2 separate regions of the Homo sapiens genome follow, and region 2 is linked to region 1. The links come from fine-mapping of genetic effects on gene expression. Tissue or cell type: CD4 T cells. Region 1 holds a variant in brackets; the other region holds the start of a gene. All regions are shown on one strand. Distances are between the middles of the regions.

Region 1 (8,105 bases):
TACACATACATATATGTATATATACATATATGTATATATACAGCTCTTTCCATATATGTATCTCTCTCTATACTTCATTTATACGTAGAGAGGGTTTGTGTTAGTTTTGCTAAACATTTTTTTTTTTTTAGACAGGGTCTCGCTCTGTTGCCCAGGCTGGAGTGCAGTGGCACGATCATAGCTCACTGTAGCCTTGGGCTCCTGGGCTCAAGGGATCCTCCCATCTCAGCCTCTCAAAGTGTTGGGATTACAGATGTGAGCCACTGCACCCATCCTGCTAAGCCATTTTTTGCTAAACCATTTGAAAGTAAATTGTAGATATTATGACACTTCACCTGCATATTTTAGAATGTATCTCCTAAGATCAAGGACATGCTCCTAAAAACTATGATACCATCACACCCAAGAAATTTAATATTGATACAATTTATCTTTTTTTAAATTTATTTATTTAAGACAGGGTTTCACTCTTTTTGCCCAGGCTGGAGTGCAATGGCACAATCTCAGCTCACCACAACCTCTGCCTCCTGGGTTCAAGCTATTGTTCTACCTCAGCCTCCCAAGTAGCTGGGATTACAGGCATGCGCCACCACACCTGGCTAATTTTGTATTTTCAGTAGAGATGGGGTTTCTCCATGTTGGTCAGGCTGGTCTCAAACTCCTGACCTCAGGTGATCCGCCTGCTTTGGCCTCCCAAAGTGCTGGGATTACAGGCATGAACCACCATGCCCAGGCTTTTTTTCTTTTTTGACATGGAGTCTTGCTTTGTAGCCCAGGCTGGAACACAGTGGTGTGATCTCGGCTTACCACAACCTCTGCCTCCCAGGTTCAAGCGATTCTCTTGCCTCAGCCTCACGAGTAGCTGAGATTACAGGCACCCACCACCACACCCAGCTGACTTTTGTATTTTTAGTAGAGATGGGGTTTCACCATGTTGGCCAGGCTGGTCTCGAACTCCTGACCTCAAGTGATCTGCCCACCTTGGCCTCTCAAACTGCTGGGATTACAGGCATGAGCCACCATGCCTGGCCATTATTTATCTTATAATCCATATTCAAATATCTGCAATTACCCCCCAAATGTCCCTTACAGTCTCTTCCCCCCAGTCCAGAGTTCAGTAAAGGATCATGCATACATTTGAAAGCTATGTCTTGTCACTGTCTTTTAATCTAGAAGAGTCCCTCATCTCTTTTGTCCTTTCGGGATATTGACAGTTTTGGGGTCCGGGCCAGTTGTACTGAATACCCTGACATCTGGATCTGCTTTATTGTTTTCTCATGATTTGGTTAGGATTAAGCTTTTATGGCTAGAATATTAAACAGGTGATGGTGTGTCTTTCCCATTGCTTCATATCAGAAAGAAATAATGTAAATGTGTCCCATTATTGATGATGCTAAGTTTGATCTGTTGGATCAAACTTAATATGTCTTCATTGGAAACATACATTTTGGGGTTAATAAGTAATCTGTGGCCTTCAAGACTACGAGACTGTCTTGTTCTCCACCCACCTTTCACCCAGTAATGTTTGTGTTTGTTTGTTTTGAGATGAAGTCTCGCTCTGTTGCCCAGGCTGGAGTGCAGTGGCGCAATCTCGGCTCACTGCAACCTTCTGTTCTTCTTCTCTTGCCTCAGCCTCCCTCCCGAGTAGCTGGGACTACAGGCACGAGCCACTTCACATTGCAAGTTTTGCTTTTTTTTTTTTTTTTTTTTTTAGTAGAGATGGGGTTTCACCATTTTGGCCAGGCTGGTCTGGAACTCCCAACCTCAGGTGATCCACCCGCCTTGGCTTCCGAAAGTACTGGGATTACAGGCGTGAGCCACCGCGCCCAGCCCCCACCCAGTAGTTTTTTTTGTTTTGTTTTGGGTTTTTTTTGTATTTTTAGTAGAGACGGGGTTTCACCATGTTAGCCAGGATGGTCTCGATCTCCTGACCTCGTGATCCACCCACCTTGGCCTCCCAAAGTGCTAGGATTACAGGTGTGAGCCACCACACCTGGCCAACCCAGTAGTTTTTATCATCCCTTGATGATCCCTCCCTGGATTATCATGCTGGTGGTTGCAAAATTGTAACTTTCTAATTCTACCATTGCTTCCTCTTTTATTAGGTAATATTCCCCCCCAAAAGGAGCTCCCGCCCTTTTTCTGGGGTATCACTATGGACTCATAAACTTTTTTTTATTTTATGTGTTATAATCCATTACTATGGTTATTCTATTTTCCCTTGGTTTTATTAGGGTATCATTTACATAAAATGAAATGCATAGATATTAGGTAATATGTAATCTGATGAATTTTGACATATGTATATACTTGTGTAACCAACACCTGAATTTAACCAATACTCCCAATGGATATAGAAATTTCCATTACTCCAGAAAGTTCTCATGCACTTGTTACTTACTAACTCCAAAGGAGAAAAATGTACCTCTCCACTGTTCTAATTTTATCATCATAGATTAATTTTGACTGTTCCATAACTTCCTATAAATGGAACCATCTAATATATAGTCTTTTGTGTTTAGCTTTTTTCACTAAGGATGATGTTTTCTAGATTCATCCATGTTGATCTGCATGTCAGTGGTTCATTCCTTTTTACTGCTGGGAAGTGTACCGTCTCAGGAAATGATAGTCCAGGGCCGGGTGCAGTGCCTCACACCTAGAATTCCAGCACTTTGGAAAGCTGAGGTACAAGAATCGCTTGAAACCAGGAGTCTCTACAAAAAATTTTAAAATGAGCTGGGCTTGGTGGCACACACTTGTAGTTCTAGCTACTTGGGAGGCTGAGGTGAGAGGACTGCTTGAGCCCAGGAGTTGGGGTCTGTAGTGAGCTATGATCCCACCACTGCACTCCAACCTGGGTGACAGTGTGAGACCCTGTCTCTGAAAAAATAAAAAAGAAGATGATACCCTAAGATAAAGGCTTCAGAAGCAGCTCTCTCTGACCGTCTCCTGCCCTTCTGTCTCTGGCCTCTTATTCTCCCCTGAGGCTAGTCATAGAAACTAGAATCCCTCTTCCCCAAGGCAGGGTTTAGAAACCAGAAACTGGCAGGGCGCAGTGGCTCACTCCTGTAATCCCAGCACTTT[G/C]GGAGGTCGATGCAGGCGGATCACCTGAGGTTAGGAGTTCGAGACCAGCCTGGCCAACATGGTGAAACCCCATCTCTACTAAAAATACAAAATTAGCCAGGTGTGGTGGTACATGCCTGTAATCCCAGATACTCTGGAGACTGAGGCAGGAGAATCGCTTGAATGTGGGAGGCGGAGGTTGCAGTGAGCCAAGATTGTGACACTGCACTCCAGCCTGGGCACTAGAGCAAAACTCCATCTCAAAAAAAAAAAAAAAAAAAAAAAGAAACCAGAAACCTTCCTCCTTCCCCTTGCCAGCGGTGAAACCAAACCTAAAAATATTACTCTAACTCCCTCCCCCTAAACCACCACACCTTTCTGTGCATAAACTGGCCATCAAGAAATTATCCAACCTACCTGGTTTGACTGTAGGTCATAAGACCCCCATTCCAGAGAGGGTCCTGCTGCACACCCGGAAGGAAGGACAAGAACAAAACTCTGTCTCAAAAAAAAAGAAAAAAAATTCTGTGTGTGTGTATTTCTCATTCTTTTTGATGCTCAAATTGTCCCAAATTTGACCATTGGTAGTCCTCTCAAATTAATTCCTGTGTCATCTTTGGGACAATCTTAATTTTAAATGGGCCCTGTGGGACTTAAACTTGTCCAACACTATGATCGGTTCTGAGTTCAGAAAATAGTCTCTCTAAATTTTTGTTCCAATCTCCACAGATGTAGATTCTTACCTCATTCCCAAAGCTAGTCACTCCTTAATCTACAACAGCCATTCTTCAGCAACACTGAAGACTCTTATGACATAAAGTTGAAACTTCTTTCCCCAAATGATGCATGCATCCGACACACAGGCAGACACACACGTGCATGCGCAGACACACAGGCAGACACACACGTGTGCGTGCGGACACACAGGCAGACACACGTGCATGCACACACACACACATTTTGCCAGTGGTTCTTGGATTGTTTACAGTGATCTCTAAATCACTGAACGCCTACTATGTATTAGAGATTGTGCTAGATGCAAAGAAATGCAAAGGGAAGAAAATAAGAAAATTAACATTTAAAAAAGACCTAGGCCCCATGTGGTGGCTCACACGTGAAATCCCAGCATTTTGGGAGGCCAAGGCAGGAGGGTCACATGAGCCCAGGAGTTGGACACAAGCCTGGGCAACATAGTGAGACCTCATCTTTACAAATATATATATATTTTTTAATTAGCCTGGCATGGTGGTGCATGCCTGTGGTCCCAGCTAGTTGGGAGGCTGAGGTGGGAGAACTGCTTGAGCCCTGGGGGCCAAGGCTGCAGTGAGCAGAGATTGCACAGTCCAGCCTGGGCAACAGAACGAGACCCCGTCTCAAAAAGAAAAAGAAAATACCTACCATGTATGTTCCGGACATTGTACTAAGTGTTTGATACATGTCATCTTAACAAAGATGCATAAAATAGAGATTTCATAAACTAACAAATTATCACAGCACACTAGAATACATACTATTGTAAATAAAGGCATGTAGTCACTGAATTACATTCATTCACCAGATATTTCTTGAAAACTTCCTATGTACAAGCTCTGCCCCAGGCGTGGGGGATACATCTGTGAATAAGACAAATGCAGCCTGTGCCTTCTAGGGCTCAAGTCTAGTGGAGGAAGGCAGACACATAAGCAATTACCATCAGAGCTCCAACCCACACAAACATTTTTAAAAACATATTATTGTAGAGACAGGTTCTCACTATGTTGCCCAGGCTTGTCTCAAACTCCTGGCCTCCAGCAATCCCCTCACCTCTGCCTTTCAAAACATTGGGATTGCAGGCGTGAGCCACTGCATCTAACCCAAAAATATGTTTCAAAAAGAAAAACAAAATCTAAAACCCACTGCCTCTGAATCTGTACTATATTCTTTGGAAGCTCCTCACAGGTGACAAATTAGCATTGTCTTATATACAACCCAAAGCCCTCTGAGCAGAGCTTGATGAATAAGTGGATAATTAATATCTTTTTTTTTTTTGAGACAGAATCTCACTCTGTCGCCAGGCTGGAGTGCAGTGGCATGATCTCAGCTCGCTGCAACCTCCAACTCCCTGGTTCAAGCGATTCTCCTGCCTCAGCTTCCCGAGTAGCTGGGATTACAGGCGTGTGCCACCATGCCATGCCCAGCTAATTTTTGTATTTTTGGTAGAGACAGGGTTTCACCATGTTGGTCAGGATCACAAGCTCCTGACCTTGTGATCCGCAGGTGCAGATAGAAAAGAAATCCCAGATTGAGTGTTGTGCTGTAATCCTAGAAAACAATCGATCAAATCAGAACAGACTCCATGAATAAAAAGAAGAGATTCCAACCAGAAATTAATGTCAGAAATTTGAAAAGGGAATATCATTTCAGATTCTTCAGCACCAAAAGATCATAAGAAGACATGATGAATAACTTTATGCCTATGTATTTGAAAATTTAAGTGGAACAGAAATATTTCTAGAAAAAAGTCTTACCTAAATGGACACAAAACATAATAGAAAATTGGAATCATCCTATAACTATTAAAGACATTTCATCTCTAATTTAAAAGGTTCCCACAAAGAAAACTCCAATCCCTAATGCCTTTGAAATCTACCACACTTTTAAGGAAGAAATAATGCCAACATCACATAATTTCTTCCAAAGGCCAGGAAAAAAGGTCACCAACCGACATGAAAGCAACATAACATTGACACCAACATAGGAGATAAGGTGCAAAAATATCTCTAATTTCATTTCATTCAGTTCAAACCGTGATACAGTTTGCCTGTGTCCCCACCCGAATCTCATTTTGAATTGTAGTTCCCATAATCCCCACATGTTGTGGGAGGGACCGGGTGGGAGGTAATTGAATCATGCGGGCAGTTACCCCCATGCTATTCTGATCATGAGTTAGTTCTCACAAAATCTGATGATTTTAGAAGGGGCTTTTCCCCCCATTCGCGCTTCACTTCTTGCTGCTGCCAGGTGAAGAAGACCTTGTTTGCTTCCCCTTCCACCATGATCATAAGTTTCCTGAGGCTTCCCCAGCTATGCGGAACTGTGAGTCAATTAAACCTCTTTCCTTTATCAATTACCCAGTTTTGAGTATGTCTTTATTGGCAGCGTGAGATTGGATTAATACAAACTGCTTTCATTAATAAAATTGCATCAATTTGTTGCAGCAATGTTGGGAACATCTAGTACCCTTGTTCTCAGTCTTGAGCTTGCATTAGAATCACCTGGAGGGGTTGGCTTTGTTAAACCAGATTGGGGGCCCATCTGTGGTCAGGGATGGGGCCCAAGAGTTTTAAATACAACAAGATCCTTGGTAATGCTGTTGCCTCTGCACCAGGGACCACTTTTGACAATCACTGACCCAGTGGCACATACTATTTTGAAATCTTGCTTGCCATAGAAGTAATGTTATTTGGAATGCTTGGACAGGCTCAGTATGTTGGAACAACTTCTAATTTAATTCTCTAAGGATGTAAAAAAAAAAATCTTGGTTAGATTGGCCAACATTGATATGATTGGCCAATTTCAATATGCTAAAGTAAATGATGTGGTCAGCTGTAATCCCTGAAAATTTGTTTTCAAGAAGTTGATTATCACTGTTTTTCCCCCAACATATATATGAATTTTAGCAGGATCCCTTTGTTTTCCTAAGATTTACAGCATATAAAAGAGTATTCCAAATAGCATTGCTTTCAGATTCTTCTAACAATTTTATAATAACTGTATTATATTTTCATTCATATTTGCTACTCTCATACAATGTCTTTATATTTGTCTGGACTAATCTGTATTGGCCAAAGTTACAATTGTCAATTCTCTGAATGCTTTTAATCCAGTTTTGTGAGAGAAGATTAACCAAACAAGAAGACCCTCCTTAAAATGTTCTTACCACTCATGTAAGATATAAGCTAAGTGTTGTGCAACTTTCAATTTGACTTTCTCTGGTTGGATTACAAAATCTATACGAGATTGTAACAGCATAATAAGCATTGTTTCCAACATTCCGCAACAGTATAGATTCAAGGAGAAACTCTATTATTGCTAAGGTATGTTTTTATGGCTTGCTACACCATAAAAACTATACACACCAAAATACATGCCAGAGAATAAATGTTTTTTTCAGGAACCATGTGAGCAATTTTTTTCTTTTGGCACATAATATGCAACCCAATACAATGATAATAAGGCTTTCTCACTGACAGTCACAACATGAATCATAAAATTTGCCTATCACATTATATATGTTTTTCTTTCTTTGGAAATATTCGAGAGACTGACTAATTCAACATGTCATGTTTCCAAGCATCTTTTAAGTTTTGATGGTTTTAAGTTCTCATTTGCAAGAACATCATTATAATGCATTGGTGTACATGTCATTTTGTTGGTTTTACACATTTCATAAAATAATACACACATATATGTATATATATATATAGAGAGAGACAGAGTTTCATAATTATCACCCAGACTAGAGACTGTGATCTCAGCTCACTGCAACCTCCGCTTCCCGGGTTCAAGTGATTCTTCTGCCTCAGCCTCCAGAGTAGCTGGGATTACAGGCGCCTGCCACCACACCTGGCTAATTTTTGTATTTTTAGTAGAGATGGGGTTTTGCCATGTTGGGCAGGCTGGTCTCAAACTCCTGATCTCAGGTGATCTGCCTGCCTTGGCCTCCCAAAGTGCTGGGATTACAGGTGTGAGCTGGCTGGGCATGGTGGCTCATGCCTGTAATCCCAGCACTTTGGGAGGCTGAGATGGGAGGATTGCTCAAGGCTAAGGGTTTGAGACCAGCCTAGTCAACATAGTGAGACCCCCATCTCTATTAAAATAAATAAATAAATACATAAATAAAGCAAATCTTGCATTTACCCTTTTTAACAAGATGCAAATGATGTCAGTCTGTTGATTAGAGTTGATATTTTCTCCAATATTTCCATTTACTCTTCCCATGTTTTTCACCTTATTATTCTTGTTCTTTGTAGCATTAAAACAGTCAACTTAAGAGCAATTTG
Region 2 (8,105 bases), 540 kb before region 1:
TGGCCAGGCTGGTCTCGAACTCCTGGCCTCAAGTGATCTGCCCACCTCAGCCTCCCAAAGTGTTGGGATTACAGGCGTGAGCCACTGTGCCTGGCCTAATTTTCTCATTTTTGTAGAGACGGGGTCTCACTATGTGGCCCAGGCTGGTCTCAAACTTCTGGGCTCAAATGATTTTCCAACCTGGGCCTCCCAAAGTGCTAGGATTACACTATTACTCCTTCTTAAATTTCTTTGAAACTCTGCTCATGGATTTTCTGTATTTATTATCTAAGTAATACATCTATGTAATAAGGCTATAAATCTGATTTTTTTTTTTTTTAAAGAAATGGATCTTATTTTGTCACCGAGGCTGGAATGCAGAGCTGCAATCACAGCTCACTGCAGCCTTGAACTCTTGGGCTCAAGCAATTCTCCAGTCTGGGCCCCCCAAAGTGCTGGGATTACAGGTATGAACCACCACACCTGGCCTGCCATGGCCCCCCTCCCAAGTTTTCTTTCTTTTTTTTTTTTTTTTGATGGAGTCTCGCTCTGTCGCCCAGGCTGGAGTGCAGTGGCGCGATCTCCATTTACTGCAAGCTCCGCCTCCCAGGTTCGAGCCATTCTCCTGCCTCAGCCTCCCGAGTAGCTGGAACTACAGGCGCCCGCCACCACGCCCAGCTAATTTTTTGTATTTTTAGTAGAGACGGGGTTTCACCATGTTAGCCAGGATGGTCTCGATCTCCTGACCTCGTGATCCGCCTGCCTTGGCCTCCCAAAGTGCTGGGATTACAGGCGTGAGCCACTGCGCCCGGCCACCAAGTTTTCTTAGCATATGTATCCTCATTTTTTGTTTGAACTAAATAATTTTTATTTATATATGACTTCATATTTAGAATAGGTTTAAATTTCCACACAGCTGGAGCTTACGCGGCTTTTGTCTGTGGCCAAAGAATATGGTTGAAACTGATTTGATATCTGTTGAGATTTGTCGTGCACCCTAGTAGTTGGGTCATTTTTGTAAATGTTCCTTGTGTGATTGAAAATAATGTGTTGGTCTCACACAGGTCTGAAATTTAAATTTTAAAAGTTAAAAAACTAACTGTCAGGTTTTCTATTGGGGTTCATTGATCTTGATTAGTAACTGTATTAACATCCTCTATGTCCTTTTTTTTTTGGTTGTTTGGTTTATTAGTTACTCAAAGAGGTCTTATGTCTCCCTATGATGGAGGACCTGGCAATTTCTCCTTGTGTTCTTAATATATTTTCAGCCTCTTTTTTTTTTTTTTCGAGACAGAGTCTCACTCTGTTGCCCAGGCTGGAGGGCAGTGGCGCAATCTCAGCTCACTGCAACCTCCGCCTAGCAGGTTCAAGCAATTCTTGTGCCTCAGCCACCTGAGTAGTTGGGATGACAGGCGTGCACCACCACGCCCAGCTAGCTAATCTTTGTATTTTTAGTAGAGACAGAGTTTTGCCATGTTGGCCAGGCTGGTCTTGAATTCCCAGCCTCTAGTGATCCACCCACCTCGGCCTCCCAAAGTGCTGGGATTACTGGCATGAGCCACTGCGCCTGGCCTATTTTCAGCCTTAAAAACAAAAACCCTGGAACATAGAAGTTCAGAACTTTCCTCTCTTCACAGAGTTCCTCCTCGCATCATTTCATGTTGATCCTCTTATCCCCAGTGTCTTCTGCCTGAAGGCCTATTTTGTCTGAGTTTTCTATAGGTACATCTTTTGGTTAGTTTTTCTCTAGTACACCTTTTCCCATCGTTTTACTTTTTGGTGCCCTTAGGTTTTAAATTTCCTCTTGTAAATAGCATAGAGCTGCATCTTATTTTTTCTTGGCCAATCTGGTCATCTGTGTTTTAAGAGGTGAATGTAAACCACATTTTCTACCTCTGGTTTTGTACTATATATTTACCATCCCTTTTACTTTGCTTCCTTTTTCTCCCTTTCTGCCTTCCATTATAGTTTTAATACCCATCACTACCCTTTTCTCTGCATTGGCAGTTATAGTTCCGTTTGTATTCTTTTGGTGATCCTCTTAAATATCTGAAATACACACCTGACTTTACAAAGCCAGACAATGCTCAGTCTCTTTAACCCCCTCTCAAATTGCCCTCTCAGTCTTCCATGTTCTTGTGTCTCATGCATCTTGTTTCTGTGGCCCACAAATTAATCATTATTATTCATATTGCATATTAAATGCTTGTTTAGATTCACATGTTTACCAATTTGCTCACCATTTTTCCATCTAATTTCTTCCTTTTGGGTTCCATGTCCTTGTTACTAAACTACATTCTTTAAAAATTATTTCGGCGGCCAGGCGTGGTGGCTCACACCTGTAATCCCAGCACTTTGGGAGGCCGAGGCGAGTGGATCACGAGGTCAGGAGATCGAGACCATCCTGGCCAACATGGTGAAACTCCATCTCTACTAAAAATACAATAATTAGCTGGGGGTGGTGGCAGGCGCCTGTAATCCCAGCTACTGAGGAGGCTGACTGAGGCAGGAGAATCGCTTGAACCCGGGAGGCAGAGGTTGCAGTGAGCTGAGATCGCACCACTGCACCCCAGCCTGGCGACAGAACGAGACTTCGTCCCCCTCCCCCCTCCCCCAAAAAAATGTTGATCTTCAGTCTGCGCATTCTGCTCTGGATTTTAAGCATCATTTCTGGCAGCTCTTTTTCAGGAACTGTCTCTGCAGGTCTTTCAGTGTTCGCCTCTGGAGCTCTGCTCGGGCCCGCGAGTTCTCCTGGCGTTGCCATCTGTGCCCTTTTCCTTATTCCCCATCACCTGTCTCTCTGGTGAGCTGCTTCCGATCAGCCTCCAGGTCCACGATTTCTCTTCTGTTGTCCTTTTCTGCCTTCTCACCTCATCCTCTGAGACCTGAATTTCGATGGCTCTACTTTTCAATTATATTATTCTTTTTCAAACCTGGGCGTTCATTTCTAGCATCCTGTTCTATCCTGTGTCTGACTGTGCCTCCCGCACCTTCTCCCTTCTCTCGCCCTAAGCCCCGTGAAGGCGCCGGGCCTTTGGCTCCGGCTGTTTCCCACGGCGCCCAGAACCGCGTCAGTCCTGACACAGACTCGGTGAGGGCGGGAAGTGGTGCCGTGGGGCTGCAGCCTGGCCCGCCCGCTCCATCGGCCTAGGGCGGCCCCACCGCCCTCCGGGCCTTACCTTGAGTTCGGGCTGCGGGAGAAGCTCCCGCGCTGCCCATGACGTCACGGGACTGTGACGCGCCCAGAAGCCCCGCCCCTCGCGTCCCGGTCCGCGGACCCAGGCTCTCTGCGCCGTGACGTCACGGGTCCGGGCGGGCGGGTTGTGCGTCGGCCCAATGGGAGCGGCGCACTGGCCTCCCCTTTAAGGAATGTTGTGACCTGACGTCACCGGGCGAGTTACCTCCCGCAGCCGCAGCCGCCGTGCTCAGCGCGAGCCCCGGAGCCCTTGAGCGCGAGGCGCGGAGCCCCCGGAGCCCCCAAACCGCAGACACATCCCCGCGCCCCAGAGCCCCGGCCTGCGCGCCCAGCCGGGCCCGCGCGATGCCCTCAGACCGGCCTTTCAAGCAGCGGCGGAGCTTCGGTGAGGCCCGGCAGGCGAGCTGCGAGCTCTGGGGCAGGGGTGCCGGCCGACCCCGACTGCCGCAGGTGACGTCAGCCCCGTGACGTCAGGCTCTGGCTGGACCCTCGGGCTGGGACCAGCTCCGGCCTGGGCGGGGGCTGCCCGCTTCCCCACCGCGATAGGTGCCAGGGGCTGTGGGGCCTGATGGCCCCGGGGGTGGGGGCTGGAGCTGGGGCGTGGCCGGGGGCCGCCCCTCCGGGACAGGCGGGGCGGACCTGGGCCGGCCCGACCCGGCCTCACGGTCTGGCCGCTGTCCGCAGCCGACCGCTGTAAGGAGGTACAGCAGATCCGCGACCAGCACCCCAGCAAAATCCCGGTGAGTCCCGCACCCCCAGCCCTGCCCCGCCCCCGCCTCGCGCGTTCCCGACACGACCCCCTGCCCGCCCGCCCTGCTCCCAGGTGATCATCGAGCGCTACAAGGGTGAGAAGCAGCTGCCCGTCCTGGACAAGACCAAGTTTTTGGTCCCGGACCATGTCAACATGAGCGAGTTGGTCAAGATCATCCGGTGCGTGGGCAGCCGCCGCCAGGAGGTGGCTAGGGTCGGGAGGGGAGCCGGGTTCCCGCCGAGAAGGGGTGGGAGTGGGGTCAGGGGTGATGGGACCGGGCGGTGGGCCCCTGTTCTGGGGTGGCTGGAAAGGTCAAGGTCGGGGCTGCAGTCGGTGTTGGGTCAGAGGTGACAGCTGGGGTGAGAATGGGTGTGAAAGGCTGGGAATCATTCTGGGGGTCAGGGCTATGTCCGTCCCGCAGCCAAGCCCCTCACAGCTGCATACTCTCCCGCCGGCTGCAGGCGCCGCCTGCAGCTGAACCCCACGCAGGCCTTCTTCCTGCTGGTGAACCAGCACAGCATGGTGAGTGTGTCCACGCCCATCGCGGACATCTACGAGCAGGAGAAAGACGAGGACGGCTTCCTCTATATGGTCTACGCCTCCCAGGAAACCTTCGGCTTCTGAGCCAGCAGTAGGGGGGCTCGGCCTGGGAGTCGGGCGGCCCCGGTCAGGCCCTGCCCAGAGAGCTCCTGGTTCCTGAACTGAGCTGCCTCTACCGTGGTGGGCTGGGCAGGCATGTGCCCCCCTAGTCAGAGGGCACCAACCCACCTACTCTGCCCCTGGGTGGATCCTGGGCCGGTCGTGTTAGGGTTGTCCCTCTGGGTGCTGGCTGGTGGGATGGGGGAGGGTGGGGAGCAGCTCCCAGCACCCCTGCTGTGTGGTTCATCTTTTTTTTAGGCCCCTGCCTGTCTGCCCATCTGCCCCTCACCCACCCGAGGCTCTGCCCACCGCCTGGACCTGCCCACCCCTGAAAGACTGGCCCCTGGCTCCCCGCCCCTCGGTCTCCACGTGGTGTATGGATCTGTGGTCATTGTCCCTCTGCAGAATAAAGATTGCTCAGGCCTGCCTGGCCCTGTGCCTCCAGCCGCTTGCTTGGGAGTGGGGAGGGTGCTGGTGGGGCTGCCCGCACCATCCCCGGGCTCTGGCGCACAGACTTGTGTTCTGTGGCCGCGGTGCTCGCTCTGGAAACCCACACCTGTGTGTAGTGTTCCAGAACATTATTAGGGGCCACCCCCTCTAGGAGTGCAATGCAGATGTGGTCTCAGGGTAGACTTCATAACAAAAAACATTTATTAAGTAGCCACAATCTAACAAGCCCTGCTCACCTGCCTCTTCTCCTTCCTGTCTGGGAGGGGGCTCCTTGGTGTGCAGAGCCACAAGGTGGGGGTCCAAGTTGGGGAGCTCCCAGTTCTTCCCCATAGGCCTTGCTGTCAGTCAGCCATGGGTCCCTTTTGGTACCAGAGACTTGTGACCCTGGACTCGAACCTCTTCTGCCCAAGCACTCGCCTGCTGGCAACTCTGGCTGGAGGGCTTGGCCCAGCTTCTGGCCCCACAGCCCCCTGAGGTCCATGCAGCCCTGTGCCAGCCAGGCCTACTTGAGCACGAGCATGGCCTCTGTGCCATCCTTGGCGGTCAAGTAGAGGCCATGTGTGAGGTAGTACTCCCGCCGCAGGAAGGCATAGAAGTAATCAGAGATGAGCAGGATCTGGGGGGAGAGAGAGGGTGTGAGGCGCTGCTGGGTACCTCCCCCTAAACCCAGGATCCCTGAACTGCTGGCAGGTGTTGTTGGAAGACAGGAACGCCCCTGCCTGGCTCTGGATCACAATCACTGGAGAGGCCCTCCTCAGGGCCCCCACCTCAGGGCCCATAATTGACCCTGCAAGGTCTGGCCTCTCAGAAGCTGCCTGGACTCCCCCTGCCCCCACCCATGGTCTACACCTCCATCCCAGGCTCTGGCCTCGAATGCCAGCCTGGTGCCTGTGCAACCAGAGGCCTCTGCCCCATCCTCCCACAGCCACTTCCATCCCAGCCAGGTCCACATCAAACTCCTCACCTTCCCTCTGTCAAATACACTTCTCCCACTCAGCATCCATGCCCCCATCTTCCAGCCAGGTGCCCAGGCCACAAAATTGCCCTGACACTTCTCTCATACATCGAGCCACCATGACCTGTCAATTCCCCCTAAACTCAAATCCACCCTTTGGATCCATCCCCACAGTCACTACTCTGGACAGAGCCACTGTCATCTCATCTCCTAAACAACAGCAAAGCTTGGTCCTTGGGCTCCCTGCTCTCAAACCCGTGCCCACCCCATTCTCCCTGGCAGCCAGAGGGAGCTTTTCAAAACCCACATCTGATGGTGTTACTTCCAGCCTTCAAATCCTCCAAAGGCTTCCCAAGCCTTAGGGCAAAGCTCGAACTCCCTCGTGCTCTGAGACCTTGCTAGGGTCCCTGTCCGCCCTCTCCCGGCTCCACCTCACCCCACGGCAGGATCTTTACTGTTTCTTCTGCCTGGAATGTTCTCTCCCCGTTCATCTAGTTGACAGCTGCTTACTCTTCAGGGCTCAGGAAGGATCACTTGCCCCCCAGATTAGTTCTTGGCCCCACTAATCTCTACTCGATAACAGACTCATCGAAAGTGTAATTTTCCATTCAGCTGACAGCCTGACTGTGCCTCCTCCCCTGGCCCGGGGCCTCCATCAGGGCAGGGTCTTCGAATGGTTCTGTCACTATGGTATTTCTGTGCCCAGCTCAGTCTGTCTGTCCCATTCTGGGCCACACACAGAAGAATCAAAGGGAGCCTAGAAGCTCAGCCCACTGTCTCTTCAAGGAGGCCCAGAAAGGAATAGGGATTTGCCAAGGGCCCTATACACCAGACCCGGAGTCTGCAATCCCAGTCAGCCCAAGCTTCCCAAGACCACTGGTCCCTGGAGCAGGTTGGGCAGGGCCCAGCCTCAGAGAAGGATGAGGGGACAGGGGCTCACACTACAGACACCGCAGCTCTCAGGCACCTGGAGGCCTCAGAGGATTGGCACCAACCACCTGGCACAGATGGGGAGACTGAGGCACAGAGCACTTGGCTATGGTCTTGGGGCAAGACAGGTTGAGCTAAGCCTGGGATCTAGACCTCCAGACCCTGTCCTGGGCAGCTTCTCACTGACCTGAAGGTAACACAACAGCAGCTAAGGAGAGATCAGAGGCGCCTGGAGGAGTTCAGGAAGGTGTCCTGTCACCAGCAGCTCTGATGGCCTCAGGACAAGTACCTGCCATTCTATCACCACAGAAGCCCATCTGGAAGGTTGAACAATCCTCATCTTAAACAGATGGGGAAACTGAGACTCAAAGGGTTCAATGGTTGGCCTAAGGCTACACCTGGAGCACTGGACTAATGGCCATGGACCCAGAAAGGTGGTCTGCCTGGGGCCCAGATCACTGATGAGCACGAGATTGGTCACAGCGTCAGCAAAGCAGACAGAGCTCAGGCAGCCCCCGAGGCCCTGCCCCCAGCTGCCCAGCTGGCAGCTCCAGGCTGGCCCACTGGGGGGCAGTGATCACAGCAAAGGCTGACCTCATACCCTGCAGCCCTTTCTCACCCAGGCCCGAGATGCCATCTGGGCAGGAGGAGCCCAAAGCAGGGGCTGAGCTCAGAGGCTGATCCCTGAACCAGGTCAGCTGAGGGGCAGGTGCAGTCACAATCCACAACAATCAAAACGAAGCAACTCCATGTCACACAATAATCATCTGGACAAGAAGCAGGAAGAAAAAGATTAGGTTATTAGGTTGGACCATATGAAATTGCCAGTTTTGCAGATAAAAAAATGGTTGAATACTGGCAATTTCATATGATCCAACCTAATATAAAACGGAAAAACGTACACATGGAAAAGTAAGCATGTTATTTAGAAGTACCAACAGAAATAACAGTAAGACTTTAGGTAGCTATTCTTTTCCCCTATAAGCCTTAACTTTGCAAACTACATACATGTATTCCATTGATAAAAATAAAACTTCGGCGAGGTGCGGTGGCTCATGCCTGTAATCCCAGCACTTTGGGAGGCCGAAGCAGGCGGATCACCTGAGGTTGGGAGTTCGAGACCAGCCTGACCAACATGGAGAAACCCCGTCTCTACTAAAAATACAAAATTAGCCGGGCATGGTGGCGCATGCCTGTAATCCCAG

Alleles and levels. Alleles are on the strand shown, and positions count from the first base shown. SD is a standard deviation of normalised expression in the study named.
For the expression in CD4 T cells of the gene that starts at base 3,370 in region 2, allele G in region 1 goes with a lower level than allele C (large effect, 2.2 SD a copy in CEDAR).

The links. PIP is the estimated chance that this variant, and not a neighbour inherited with it, causes the effect.
Region 2: MAP1LC3A starts here. The variant in region 1 is fine-mapped to the expression of MAP1LC3A in CD4 T cells (CEDAR, PIP 0.95).

The regions. Positions count from the first base shown.
Region 1 is chr20:35,097,850-35,105,954 of GRCh38, forward strand. No RefSeq gene overlaps it. Among named protein-coding and RNA genes, the nearest start is that of TRPC4AP, 9.1 kb to the left of the region's middle. RefSeq lists enhancers at 3,509-4,010, 4,011-4,510. The variant G/C (reference allele first, on the strand shown) is at 3,085.
Region 2 is chr20:34,555,349-34,563,453 of GRCh38, forward strand. MAP1LC3A (microtubule associated protein 1 light chain 3 alpha) reads left to right here and starts at 3,370. Exons shown (of 4, transcript NM_032514.4): 1 at 3,370-3,560; 2 at 3,860-3,915; 3 at 3,999-4,105; 4 at 4,388-4,997. The coding sequence starts at 3,521. The coding sequence ends at 4,550. PIGU (phosphatidylinositol glycan anchor biosynthesis class U) reads right to left here. Exons shown (of 12, transcript NM_080476.5): 12 at 5,194-5,631. The coding sequence ends at 5,518. RefSeq lists silencers at 3,072-3,161, 3,502-3,551, 5,126-5,175.